2 linked regions of the Homo sapiens genome follow. The protein of the gene in region 1 interacts with the protein of each later gene in a biochemical or structural test. Each region holds a gene or a part of one and is shown in the gene's direction. Other genes may lie near its edges.

The links. The genes of interacting proteins can lie anywhere in the genome.
Region 2: the proteins of RAB5C (region 1) and RBSN form a complex in vitro, tested with the Homo sapiens proteins (2 studies listed by BioGRID and IntAct, with this or other methods).

Annotation. Positions count from the first base shown.
Region 1 is NC_000017.11:42,144,970-42,152,012, reverse strand, and holds part of RAB5C (ras-related protein Rab-5C), read left to right. Parts: intron 1-7,043. UniProt on the Homo sapiens protein: The small GTPases Rab are key regulators of intracellular membrane trafficking, from the formation of transport vesicles to their fusion with membranes.
Region 2 is NC_000003.12:15,069,541-15,075,159, reverse strand, and holds the end of RBSN (rabenosyn-5), read left to right. Parts: intron 1-229; coding exon 230-1,378; 3' UTR 1,379-5,087; downstream 5,088-5,619. UniProt on the Homo sapiens protein: Rab4/Rab5 effector protein acting in early endocytic membrane fusion and membrane trafficking of recycling endosomes. Required for endosome fusion either homotypically or with clathrin coated vesicles.

The DNA of each region.
Region 1 (7,043 bases):
GGGGTCAGATGTGACCTGATCTAACAGTGGGCCCTTCTTCGGCCTGGTTTGTTCGTTAAATGAATGAACATGCAGACTGAGTGCGCCACGGCACAAGGGCAGACTCTTAACTCTTTAGCCCTCCTCATCACTAGCGCTCCTCTGTTTTTTTGTCTTCCCCAGCGTCTACCCGACCTCCTGTCTTCTCTCTTGACCCCTTTCACCTCTGCCTCTGAGGACCAAAACAGTTAGGAGTCCCAAGTCAGTACTCTTCAGGGCCTGAGAGTTTGCTGACATCTACATGTCATTAATTTTTCTGGGAACCTGAAAGTCCTAATGGCTAGAAAATGAAAGTTAAAGTGAGTAAACTCAGGGGTCCCACTGGGCAGGGTTAAGGGGGAAGCAACAGAGCGGGCCTCTGGTTAGTCCTCTGTTTCTCCTGTGGTGCTGCCTGCTGCTTGCAAGTGGGAAGAATGTGGCTTGCCACCAGGAGCTCCTGTCACTAGAATTTACATGGAAACAGAGCAAGATCATACATTTAAATTCAGCCCCACCAAGCAAGTACTTCTTAGACCTTCTACTTCTTTTTTTTTTTTTGAGTCGGAGTCTCGCTCTGTCGCCTAGGCTGGAGTGCAGTGGTGCGATCTTGGCTCACTGCAAGCTCCGCCTCCCGGGTTCATGCCATTCTCCTACCTCAGCCTCCAGAGTAGTTGGGACTACAGGTGCCCACCACCACGTCCGGCTAATTGTTTTGTATTTTTAGTAGAGATGGGGTTCCGCCGTGTTAGCCAGGATGGTCTCGATCTCCTGACCTCGTGATCCGCCCACCCTGGCCTCCCAAAGTGCTGGGATTACAGGCGTGAGCCACTGCGCCTGGCCAGACCTTCTACTTCTAACCCTTGCCCAGTAAACAGGCAGTGTGGTCGGGTGGAAGGCACTAGAACTTCAGAGGCAGTTGGACCTGAGTTCTCATCCTGATTCCCCCACTTACCAGTTGTGTGACCCTGGGCTTGTTACTTGACCTCACTGAGCCTGTGTTTCTTCTGGTAAAATGGGGATGCTAAATACCTTGCAGAATTAGAAACAAAGAAAGGAGCTAGTCCAGTGCTGGCAGACTGGATGCCCACAAAATAGCAGTTGCCTCTGATGGGTAGGTAGGGGTTTGAAGGTTCTTTTTTTTTTTGAGGCAGTCTCATTCTCATTCTGTTGCCCAGGCTCACTGCAACCTCCGCCTCCTGTGTTCAAGCGATTCTCCTGCCTCAGCCTCCTGAGTAGCTGGGATTACAGGCACCTGCCATCATGCCCGGCTAATTTTTTTTTTTGGTATTTTTGTAGAGATGGGGTTTGACCATGTTGGCCAGGCTGGTCTCAAACTCCTGACCTCAGGTGAGGTGATCTGCCCGCCTCATCGGCCTCCCAGAGTGCTGGGATTACAAGCATGAGCCACCGTGTCTGGCTGATTTTTTTTTTTTTTTTTTTTTTTTTTTTTGAGATGGAGTTTCACTCTTGTCTCCCAGGCTGGAGTGCAATGGCGTGATCTTGGCTCACTGCAACCTCTGTCTCCCGGGCTCAAGCTATTCTCCTGCCTCAGCCTCCTGAGTAGCTGGGATTATAGGCGTGTGCCACCATGCCCAGCTAATTTTTGTACTTTTAGTAGAGACAGGGTTCCTCTATGTTGGCCAGGCTGGTCTCGATCTCCTGACCTCAGGTAATTGTGCCCAGCCTCAACACTGATTCTGATTCAACATGTGTACCAAATGTATGCTGGGGCTGGGCACAGTGGCTCATGCCTATAATCCTAGCACTTTGGGAGGATCGCTTGATCCCAGGAGTTCAAGACCAGCTTGGGGGCCAGGTGTGGTGGATCACGCCTATAATCCTAGCACTTTGGAAGGCTGAGGCTGGGAGATCACCTGAAGTCAGGAGTTCGAGACCAGCCTGGCCAACATGGTGAAACCCCATCTCTACTAAAAATACCAAAATTAGTCAGGCGTGGTGGCACATGCCTGTAATCCCAGCTACTTGGGAGGCTTAGGCAGGAACCTGGGAGGCAGTTCAACCTGGGAGGTGGACGTTGCAGTGAGCCGAGATTGCACCACTGCACTCCAGCCTGGGCAACAGACCAAGAGTCTATCTCAAAAAAAAAAAAAAAAAAAACCAGCCTGGGCAACATAATGAGACCCCATGTCTAAAACAAAAACAAAATGTCTGCTGGGATGCCTTGTACATTGCTTGATGGTTTCACAAATTGTCTCATTTTGTAGACATTGAACAGAATTGATGTGGGTTGTATTCCCATTTTACAGAAGAGAACGCTGTGCCACTTCAGTTTTACTTAGTTGTAAGCGTTTTAATATTAAAACAGTCCTGTAACTATTATAGATTAGAATGCAAAGTTTGCATGAATTGAAGCTAACACAGGAAACTTTAATTAATTAATTAATTTATTTATTTTTGAGACAGGGCCTCTCTCACCCAGGCTGGAGTGCAGTGGGACGATCATGGCTTACTTCCGCCTTGATCTTGTGGACCCAAGTGATCCTCCCACCTCAGCCTCCTGAGTAGCTGGGACTGTAGGCATGTACCACCATGCCCGGCTAGTTTTTGTATTTTTAGTAGAGACAGGGTTTTGCCATGTTGCCCAGGCTGGTCTCAGAACTCCTGGGCTCAAGTGATCCTCCTACTTTGGCCTCCCGAAGTGCTGGGATTACAGGCATGAGCCGCTGCACCTGGCCAAAGACAGTATTTTGCTTGTAGCCAGCTGCTTTGGGTTCAACTCCCAGATTTCTGGGAGTTTCCTCTCCCCTGACTTGAGTGAAGGGTACATATGTTGGGGCTGTTTGAGAAGCACTGCTTTAGGTAGAATTTATAAACTAGGATGTGCCAAAATCCAGGTAATCATGCTTGCAAAAACCTTGGCAGAGGAGAATCGGAATATTTTTGGCATCCTCTGCATTAATAGCTTGGTATTGTAAGAGATTACTTTTCCAATTAAATAGCCCCATCCTCTATGTATAAGAACAGTAATACAAATAAAAGCTAAACTTCTATTTTTGCCATGTGCCAGGCACTCTTGTGAGCCCTATGTGTTGACTCCTTTAATCCTCCGACAACCCCAGGAGGTAGGTTCTGTGTTTAATCCCCATGTTAGAGTGGGGGACTATGTAGTAATGGCAGAGATGGGGTGTGCTCTTATCGCTATTCAATACAGCCTCTCCTTGACCCATCTCTGGGCTAAATGCCTACTGTTCACTTTGCCTAGAAGGCTCTTCTGCACCTCACGTGCCTGGAAACTGTATCTCCCTACTTTTCTCTCAAAGCTCAGTTTGAATGCCACTTCCTCTGTGAAGCCTTCCCTTGCCCCAAATGGGCTGAGGGCTTGTCTCCTACATGGGCTGTCTTCTCAACTGCTATCTCATTGTTCCTTATTTGCCTCATTCTCTGGTGGGTGAGCCCTTTAGGGGCACAGATCGGGTCCTGTTTGATCTTTGTGTGTTTAGGACCTGGCATGGCACTCAGCATAGTAGGCTCCCTACTGAAGTTGTTAAAGGAGAGGGCAGACATTCAAACCTGCCCTTAAAGCAAACACCAAACACCTGCCCACTTCTTTTTTTTTTTTTTTTTTTTTTTGAGATGGAGTCTTGACCTCTCACCCAGGCTGGAGTGCAATGGTACGATCTTGCTCACTGTAACCTCCGCCTCCTGGGTTCAAGTGATTCTCCTGCTTCAGCCTCCCTAGTACCTGGGATTACAGGTGTGTACCACCACGCCCATCTAGTTTTGTATTTTTAGTAGAGACGGATTTCACCATGTTGGCCAGGCTGATCTCAAACTCCTGACCTCATGATCTGCCTGCCTCAGCCTCCCAGTGCTGGGACTACAGGCATGAGCCACTGTGCCCAGCCTTGCCCACTTCTTTTTTTTTGTTTGTTTTTGAGACAGAGTTTTGCTCTTGTTGCCCAGGCTAGAGTGCAATGGCACAATCTCAGCTCACCACAACCTCCGCCTCCCGAGTTAAAGAGATTCTCCTGCCTCAGCTTCCCAAGTAGCAGGGATTACAGGCATGTGCCACCACGGCCGGCTAATTTTTTGTATTTTTATTAGAGATGGGGTTTCTCCATGTTGGTCAGGCTGGTCTCGAACTCCCAACCTCAGGTGATCCACCCGCCTCGGCCTCCCAAAGTGCTGGGATTACAGGTGTAAGCCACCATGCCTGGCCCTCGCCCACTTCTTTTAACACACACTTCCCTTCCTTTCTTCACACACTTTGGATGTCGTGAACCTATGATTCAAACTTAAATCCATCTGATCCCACAGCTTGAGCCATATCTTTGGTCCATCCCCCAGAAAGTTGCTCACAGACAAATGGGAGAGCAAACAGGTCAATAGGATCAATGTTACAGTACGGATGATGGGAAGCAAGTCACAAACTCAGTTTCCAGAAGTTAAGACTCTCCAAATCTCCATTTCTGGTGAAGGGTTTAATGGGACAATGAGGGCGCGGCCCTGACTAGCCACAGTCCGGCTGACTGGCTTCTGCCGTGTGTGTATCTGATGGCAGGACAGAACGACCGTGCTTCTGCAGTTGTGTGTGGTGAGGCAGCACCGACCCCAGACCAGTACTTAGCAAGGATCAGTGGAAGCAAATTTGACTCTGCCTGTGGATACTGTTCTGTATGTCTGCACAAGGCTCGTTCCTGAGTGAAGGTGGCTTAAAAAAGTGGTGGCAGCAGCTGTTCAGACCAGTGGTATGAGCAGCCCTCACATGTGTATTCCACAGATGGGGTCTTTAACATTCCCTGGTCCTGTGCCTGCAGTACTTGGATATCCTCTGCTCACCTTGAGGCTGGTCTTTCTTTCTTTCTCTCTCTCTCTCTCTCTCTCTCTCTTTCTTTCTTTCTTTCTTTCTGTTTCTTTCTTTCTTTCTGTCTTTCCTTCTTTCTTTCTTTCTTTCTTTCTTTTTCTTTCTTTCTTTCTTTTTCTGTCTTTCTTTCTGTCTTTCTGTCTTTCTTTCTGTCTTTCTTTCTTTCTTTCTTGACGAAGTCTTGCCTTGTCGCCCAGGCTGGAGTGCAGTGGTACGATCTCGGCTCACTGCAAGCTCCCGGGTTCATGCCATTCTCCTGCCTCAGCCTCTCGAGTAGCTGGGACTACAGGCTCCTGCCACCACGCTTGGCTAATTTTTTGTACTTTTAGTAGAGGCAGAGTTTCACCATGTTAACCAGGATGGTCTCCATCTCCTGACCTCGTGATCCGCCTACCTTGGCCTCCTTTTTTTTTTTTCTTTTGAAATGGAGTCTTGCTCTGTTTCCCAGGCTGGAGTGCAGTGATGCCATCTTGGCTCACTGCAACCTCCGTCTCCTGGGTTCAAGTGATTCTCCTGCCTCAGCCTCCCGAGTAGCTGGGACTACAGGCGTACGCCACCATGCCCAGCTAATTTTTATATTTTTAGTAGAGACGGGGTTTCGCCATGTTGGCCAGGATGGTCTTGATCTCTTGACTTTGTGGTCTGCCTGCCTTGGCCTCTGAAAGTGCTGGGATTACAGGTGTGAGCCACTGTGCCTGGGCAATTTTTGATTTTTTTGTAGAGACGGGGTCTCCCTATGTTGCCGAGGCTTAATAAACTTATTCTTTCAGAATACTTTTAGAAAAGTTACGCAGATAGTACAGAGTTTTCTCACAATCCCTCACACATAGTTTTCCCTGTTATTAACATCTTATGTTAGTACGTATTTTACATTAAAGTCCATCCTTTATTCAGATTTCCTTAGATTTTTACCTGATGTCCTTTTGCTGTTCCAGGATCCCATGTTACCTATATTCATTGTCTCTTTAGGCTCCTCTTGCTGTGCCAGTTTCTCAGACTTTTATTGTTTTTGATGACCTTGACAGTTTTGAGGAGTGCTGGGCAAGCATCTAAAGAGGATCTCGGCCAGGCGCGGTGACTCACGCCTGTAATCCCAGCACTTTGGGAGGCCGAGGTGGGTGGATCACTTGAAGTCAGGAGTTCGAGACCAGCCTGGCTAACATGGTGAAGCCTCATCTCTATTAAAAATACAAAAATTAGCCAGGCATGGTGGTACGCACCTGTAATCTCAGCTACTCAGGAGGCTGAGGCACAAGAATCGCTTGAACCAGGAGGCAGAGGTTGCAGTGAGCCAACATCGTGTCACTGTGCTCCAGCCTGGGCTGGAGACAGAATGAGACTCCGTCTCAAAAAAAATAATAAAAAATAAAGAGAATCTCTTCTCAACTGGGATTTGTCCAGTATTTTTCTCTTTTTAACAGAGTCTTGCTCTGTCAGCCAGGCTGGAGTGCAGTGGTGCAATCTCGGCTCAAGCCATTCTCCTCAGCCTCCCAAGTAGCTGGGACTACAGAAATGCACCACCACGCCTGGCTAATTTTTGTAGAGACAAGGTTTCACCATGATGTCCAGGCTGGTCTCAAACTCCTGAGCTCAAGCGATCTGCTCACCTCAGCTTCCCAAAGTGGTGGGATTACATGCGTGAGCTAACACGCCTGGCTGTGTCCAGTGTTTTTTTCATAAGTAGACTGTGCCAAGTTTTGGGAAGGAGGACCAGAGAGGTAAAGTGCTATTTTCATCACATCATGTCAAGGGTACATACAATCCACAAGCCTTTCCATGACTGATGTCAACCATGATCACTTGGCTGAGGTGATGTGTGTGAGGCTTCTCTGTAAAGTTGTTCTCCCCTTCCCCTTTCCATGCTGCATGCACCCTTTGGAAGAAAGTCACTGTGTAGCCCACACCTAAGGAACAGGGACTTATGTTCATGTTCCCCTTGTTGAGGGCGGAGTAGCTACATGAGTTACTAAATTATTTTTTCTTTTTCTGTTTTTTTTGAGATGGAGTCTCACTCCATCGCCCAGGCTGGAGTGCAGTGGCGCAATCTCGGCTCACTGCAAGCTCCGCCTCCCGGGTTCACGCCTTTCTCCTGCCTCAGTCTCCCGAGTAGCTGGGACTACAGGCCTATAGGCGCGCGCCACCACACCCGGCTAATTTTTTTGTATTTTTTTTAGTAGAGATGGGGTTTCTTTTTTTTTTT
Region 2 (5,619 bases), on another chromosome or scaffold:
TGATGCCCTAACTTATTCATTATATTTTATTTTTGAAAATCAGGGTCTCCCTTCCGCCCACATATACACAAAAACATGACTTGATTTTAGCAGTTGGATATCTTTGTCCTGAGGTGAGAAATTGGAGTGTCACTGGCACAGGGATAGAGGGACAACAGAGGGTGGGTGACAGTGTGGGCTGCTGCCAGCATAGTGACTGTTTCTTCTCTCTGCTTTGCTCTCTCCCCAGGCTGCCCTGGAGTCCCAGCGAAGGCTTGAGGAAAGGCAGAGTGGCCTGGCTTCTCGAGCGGCCAACGGGGAGGTGGCATCTCTCCGCAGGGGCCCTGCCCCCTTGAGAAAGGCTGAGGGCTGGCTCCCACTGTCAGGAGGTCAGGGGCAGAGTGAGGACTCAGACCCGCTCCTCCAGCAGATCCACAACATCACATCATTCATCAGGCAGGCCAAGGCCGCGGGCCGCATGGATGAAGTGCGCACTCTGCAGGAGAACCTGCGGCAGCTGCAGGACGAGTATGACCAGCAGCAGACAGAGAAGGCCATCGAGCTGTCCCGGAGGCAGGCTGAGGAGGAGGACCTGCAGCGGGAACAGCTGCAGATGTTGCGTGAACGGGAGTTGGAACGAGAAAGGGAGCAGTTTCGGGTGGCATCCCTGCACACACGGACTCGGTCCCTGGACTTCAGAGAAATCGGCCCTTTTCAGCTGGAGCCCAGCAGAGAGCCTCGCACCCACCTTGCTTATGCTTTGGATCTAGGCTCTTCCCCAGTTCCAAGCAGCACAGCTCCCAAGACCCCTTCACTTAGCTCAACTCAACCCACCAGAGTGTGGTCTGGGCCCCCAGCCGTTGGCCAGGAGCGCTTACCCCAGAGCAGCATGCCACAGCAACATGAGGGGCCCTCCTTAAACCCCTTTGATGAGGAAGACCTCTCCAGCCCCATGGAAGAGGCCACTACTGGTCCTCCTGCTGCAGGGGTTTCCTTAGACCCTTCAGCCCGCATCCTGAAAGAGTACAATCCTTTCGAGGAAGAGGACGAGGAGGAGGAAGCAGTGGCAGGGAATCCATTCATTCAGCCAGACAGCCCAGCTCCTAACCCCTTCAGTGAGGAAGACGAACATCCCCAGCAGAGGCTCTCAAGCCCTCTGGTTCCTGGTAACCCCTTTGAGGAACCCACCTGTATCAACCCCTTTGAGATGGACAGTGACAGTGGGCCAGAGGCTGAGGAGCCCATAGAGGAAGAGCTCCTCCTGCAGCAGATCGATAACATCAAGGCATACATCTTTGATGCCAAGCAGTGCGGCCGCCTGGATGAGGTAGAGGTGCTGACAGAGAATCTGCGGGAGCTGAAGCACACCCTGGCCAAGCAGAAGGGGGGCACTGACTGACCAGCAGTGGAGAGGGCACCTTTGGGCCCAGGGGTCTGGCAGGAGCCAGTGGAGCAGGACAGAGGGCAGGCAGGATGGATGGGGAAGGTGGCAGGGTGAGAACTCAGATGCACACAGGTGAGGGGCAGGAATCTGCTGTTTTGTGTTGCGCACTTTGAGGTATTTCCACTACAGTTGAATAATAAAATAGAAACTAGAACAGGGAGAATCAGCATTCAGTTGCTGCTTTTCCTGTTTATTATTACTATCTTTTGTAATCGGAGGTTTACCCCTTTTGAAGGGACTTTACATTTTTACTACCGAGATATAACTAAATGCAGCTCTGTTGGGCCCAGGGCAGAAATGGCTGCTGTGTACCTCTTGGGTCCATTTGCTACTGCCTAGTCTTGGTTCCTTATGCAGTATTATAGGGCAGCCTTTTTAGAGCCCTTCCTTTAGCCAAGACAGAGAAGATAGATTCCACTGAGCTCTATTCTGCTCTGACAGAAGTCCATCCCTAGTAGGCTGTGAGTTCCATTTCACCTGGGGCCGCCTCTCCCCTGCTCTGCACTTCCTGTCTGTACAATAGAAGGGGGAGGTGCTGCTATGAAGGGGAGAGTTTAGACCCAGGAGAGCCCAGCACCTCTTTTTAAGGTGGGGTGATGGGAATATTTCACCAGGGTCTATTTTCTCAGTTTAAGTTCTTTTTTGTCTCTTTCAGGAAGTTAAGCTCCCAGTGCAGGGTATCAATGTGAATCTGGTCCTGAGCTTTTTAGAAAATAAGAGTGGTGGCCGGGCGCGCTGGCTCACGCCTGTAATCGCAACACTTTGGGAGGCCGAGGCAGGCAGATCACAAGGTCAGGAGATCGAGACCACCCTGGCTAACACAGTGAAATCCCGTCTCTACTAAAAATACAAAAAATTAGCCAGGCGTGGTGGTGGGTGCCTGTAGTCCCAGCTACTTTGGAGGCTGAGGCAGGAGAATGCTGTGAACCCGGGAGGCAGAGCTTGCAGTGAGCCGAGATCGCACCACTGCACTCCAGCCTGGGCAGTGAGAGTGAGACTCCGTCTCAAAAAAAAATAAGAGTGGTTAACTTTTTGGTTGATATTAGTATTATTTGTGAGAAGAGTTTCCCCACCCTTCTTCTGATAGAACAATTGTCTGTCACTGGAGAAATCTCCCTCCAGAGCTTTGGCAAAGTTACTCTGATCTGGGTCTGTTTAAAAGGCCGGGTCTCTAATTTAGGAATCGGTGATTTGGAAGCTTTTGCAGAACATCACCAGAAGAAGGGAAGCTTCCCAGAGTCAGAAGCTAAATTAAAATAATTTCCAAGGCTATTTGATCAGCCTTCTTCCTTTTTGGTTCATTGTGTCCTGACTTGGGGCACTGATGAGATTTTTTATTTTTTTTGAGACAGAGTTTCACTTTGTTGCCCAGGCTGGAGTGTAGTGGCATGATCTCAGCTCACTGCAACCTCCACCTCCCTGGTTCAAGTGATATTTGTGCCTCAGCCCCCTGAATAGCTAGGATTACAGGCGTGGGCCACCACGCCTGGTTAATCTCTGTATTTTTAGTAGAGGTAGAGTTTCACCATTTTGGCCAGGCTGGTTTCGAACTCCTGGCCTCAAGTGATCTGCCACCTTGGCCTCCCAAAGTGCTGGGAATACAGGCGTGAGCCACTGTGCCCGCCCTGATGAGATATTTTATTACCAATGTTAGTATTGAGAAACTGAAATGTTTGAAGAAGCACAACCCAGGATCGTGCTGGTAGCACCACAGTACTTAAACTGTTGGTCAATTAAGGCCAGAAAGGGAAATTGTTAATTTAGCTCTGGTGCTTTGGTTTACAGGAACATAACTCTTAACTGACATCTGACATCATGATAGCCATATGTGCTCAGCTCTGGGTAGAGTTTCTGCAGTTACTCATCTGAACTAATGAACAATAACTGACCACTAGTCACTTTATGCCGTGTAACTAGCTCTAGGCCATACTTTCACTGGTTACTGGTGTGAAAGCTGAAATTCATTTTGTTACATTCTGGTGAAGACCCCTCTTGATAATGGGAATGTTTTAACTCTCTTGATGAAAAAATAATCTGTATTTGTGTTGATGTTCACATTTCTGTAGCACATTTCTTATCCTTTTGGTTGAATGAAAAGATCTTGTATAGGGGTGTGGAGATGGGGAGTGGGTAGAAGTGTGTGAAGGACGCTTTGCATTTGGGATCTGTTCACAAACAGCCATATGAGTGTGTTAATGAATGTCAGCCAGTTACCAACCCTGCTGGTTGTTATGGGTTGTTTTGAGAAGTTGGCAACCAGGCATCTAAGATGTTGCCTGGTACAGGCCTCTTTTCTTCCCTGAGGCCCATGACATTTCTCTGTTACTCTAGAGGGTTTCTCAGATGGCCAGTAGGCTCCTCCCTGCTTAGGGTCTCATTTCTCTGAAAAGAGGATGAACTGAAAAGCAGGTAGTTCCAGAAGCTAATTGCTGCTTTCCATCATAATTATTTTTCTTGTGAGAACATTTCTCTTTTAATTAGCTAGTGATTTTGATTAAGACTAATTCACTAAACATACCCTTCCCTCAAATCACCTCAGGTAGCAATCTGTAAGTAACTAAAAGCATTGAAAAACACACAAGAAACATTTTTAAAAACTATTTTTAAAGGCCTGGCCGGGTGCAGTGGCTCACTCCTGTAATCCCAGCACTTTGGGAGGCCGAGACGGGTGGATCACCTGAGGTCAGGAATTTGAGACTAGCATGGCCAACATGGTGAAACCCCGTGTCTACTAAAAATACAAAAATTAGCTGGGCGTGGTGGCAGACGCCTGTAATCCCAGCTACTCAGGGAGGCTGAGGCACGAGAATCGCTTGAACCTGGGAGGCGGAGGTTGCAGTGAGCCAAGATTGCGCCACTGCACTCCAACCTGGGTGACAAGAGCAAGACTCCGTCTCACAAAAAACAAACAAAACTGACTGATTGAATATACTAAACCAAACTAAAATCATATTCTTTTGATTAAGTTTATCCATGGCTGTATTCTTCTATGAATTCTTCCATTTAATTCTTCCACGATTATCTTCTCCTGTAAATACATCACAGGAGTTAGAATTCTCTACCCATCAGCTGTACCATGTCGCAGAATTCATGCAGGCACAAAGTTGGAGTTACAGAGATGGGTTGACAGCAGGCAAACTTGGCCTATGTATTATAACCACAACTTCAAGTTCTTACCTCATGTGAATATTCACCCTTTCTTTAGTCTTCCAAGGCAAACAGCCCCGTCTCATCACCAGATGAGCAAGGTCTTGATATGGCATAGCAGATCTCCCTAGACACAGATCATGAGAAAAGATGGAAGAGACTTAGGGATTCAGGCATCAGATGAAGTTGGCTTTTCCCTTTTATGCCTTGTTTGTATTTACCCTGTCTAATACACTAAGGATACTTACTCATTGTACTTGCAGCTCAATATGTCTTTGCTGTTCAGATACTAAAATGTACCTCTGAGTCATTGTGAGCTGTGTGGTAGGTTGGACATTGGCATAGTTGGTGATGGGACTCAAAATGAAAAGGTGGTCTCTTTACCAGGTCACAGACTGTAGCAGATTGTGCTTGTTATCTGACAATGACTGTCACTTTGAGGGTCGTTGATTTGCATGCACTACTCTGGGGCCTTGTATTGGAGCCTTTTTTAAAAAAAATAAAATCTGAGATAGAGGTTGGGGGTGTGTGTGTCTGTGTGCACATGTGTTACAAGTGAGAATCATCAGATGACATCCCTTCTCCTTTCTTGATGACAACCATCTGAGTATCAGAATAGTTCCAGCACCTGTGTTGTTTGTCTGGTTAAGGCCTCTGGAAAAAATGAAGGTCACTGGGTTCTGAACAGGGGATAGATACGGGTTCCAGTTCTGCCCTTATTCCCAGTTATTCCTGCAGTGCTGGTTAAATGAACAGTTTTACAGAAGTATAGTGCAGATCCCTTAATGATCCTATCATCCCAGTTTCACACTGGAAGAAACTGAGGCTCAGAGATTGAGGAACCTTGTGACTGCCATCTGTGCCAGTCACCACCTCTGCATGACCACATTTCCCTCCATTAGCACTACCAGCATGCCTGTGAGGTAGTTACTCAGCTGTTCATCTGACCCCAGACGTAGAAAAGTTAAGAGAGATTAGCCTGGCTTAGGCCACACAGCCAGTCAGTGGTGGAATGAGGGTTTAAATCCAGATCTGCCTGACTTAATTTG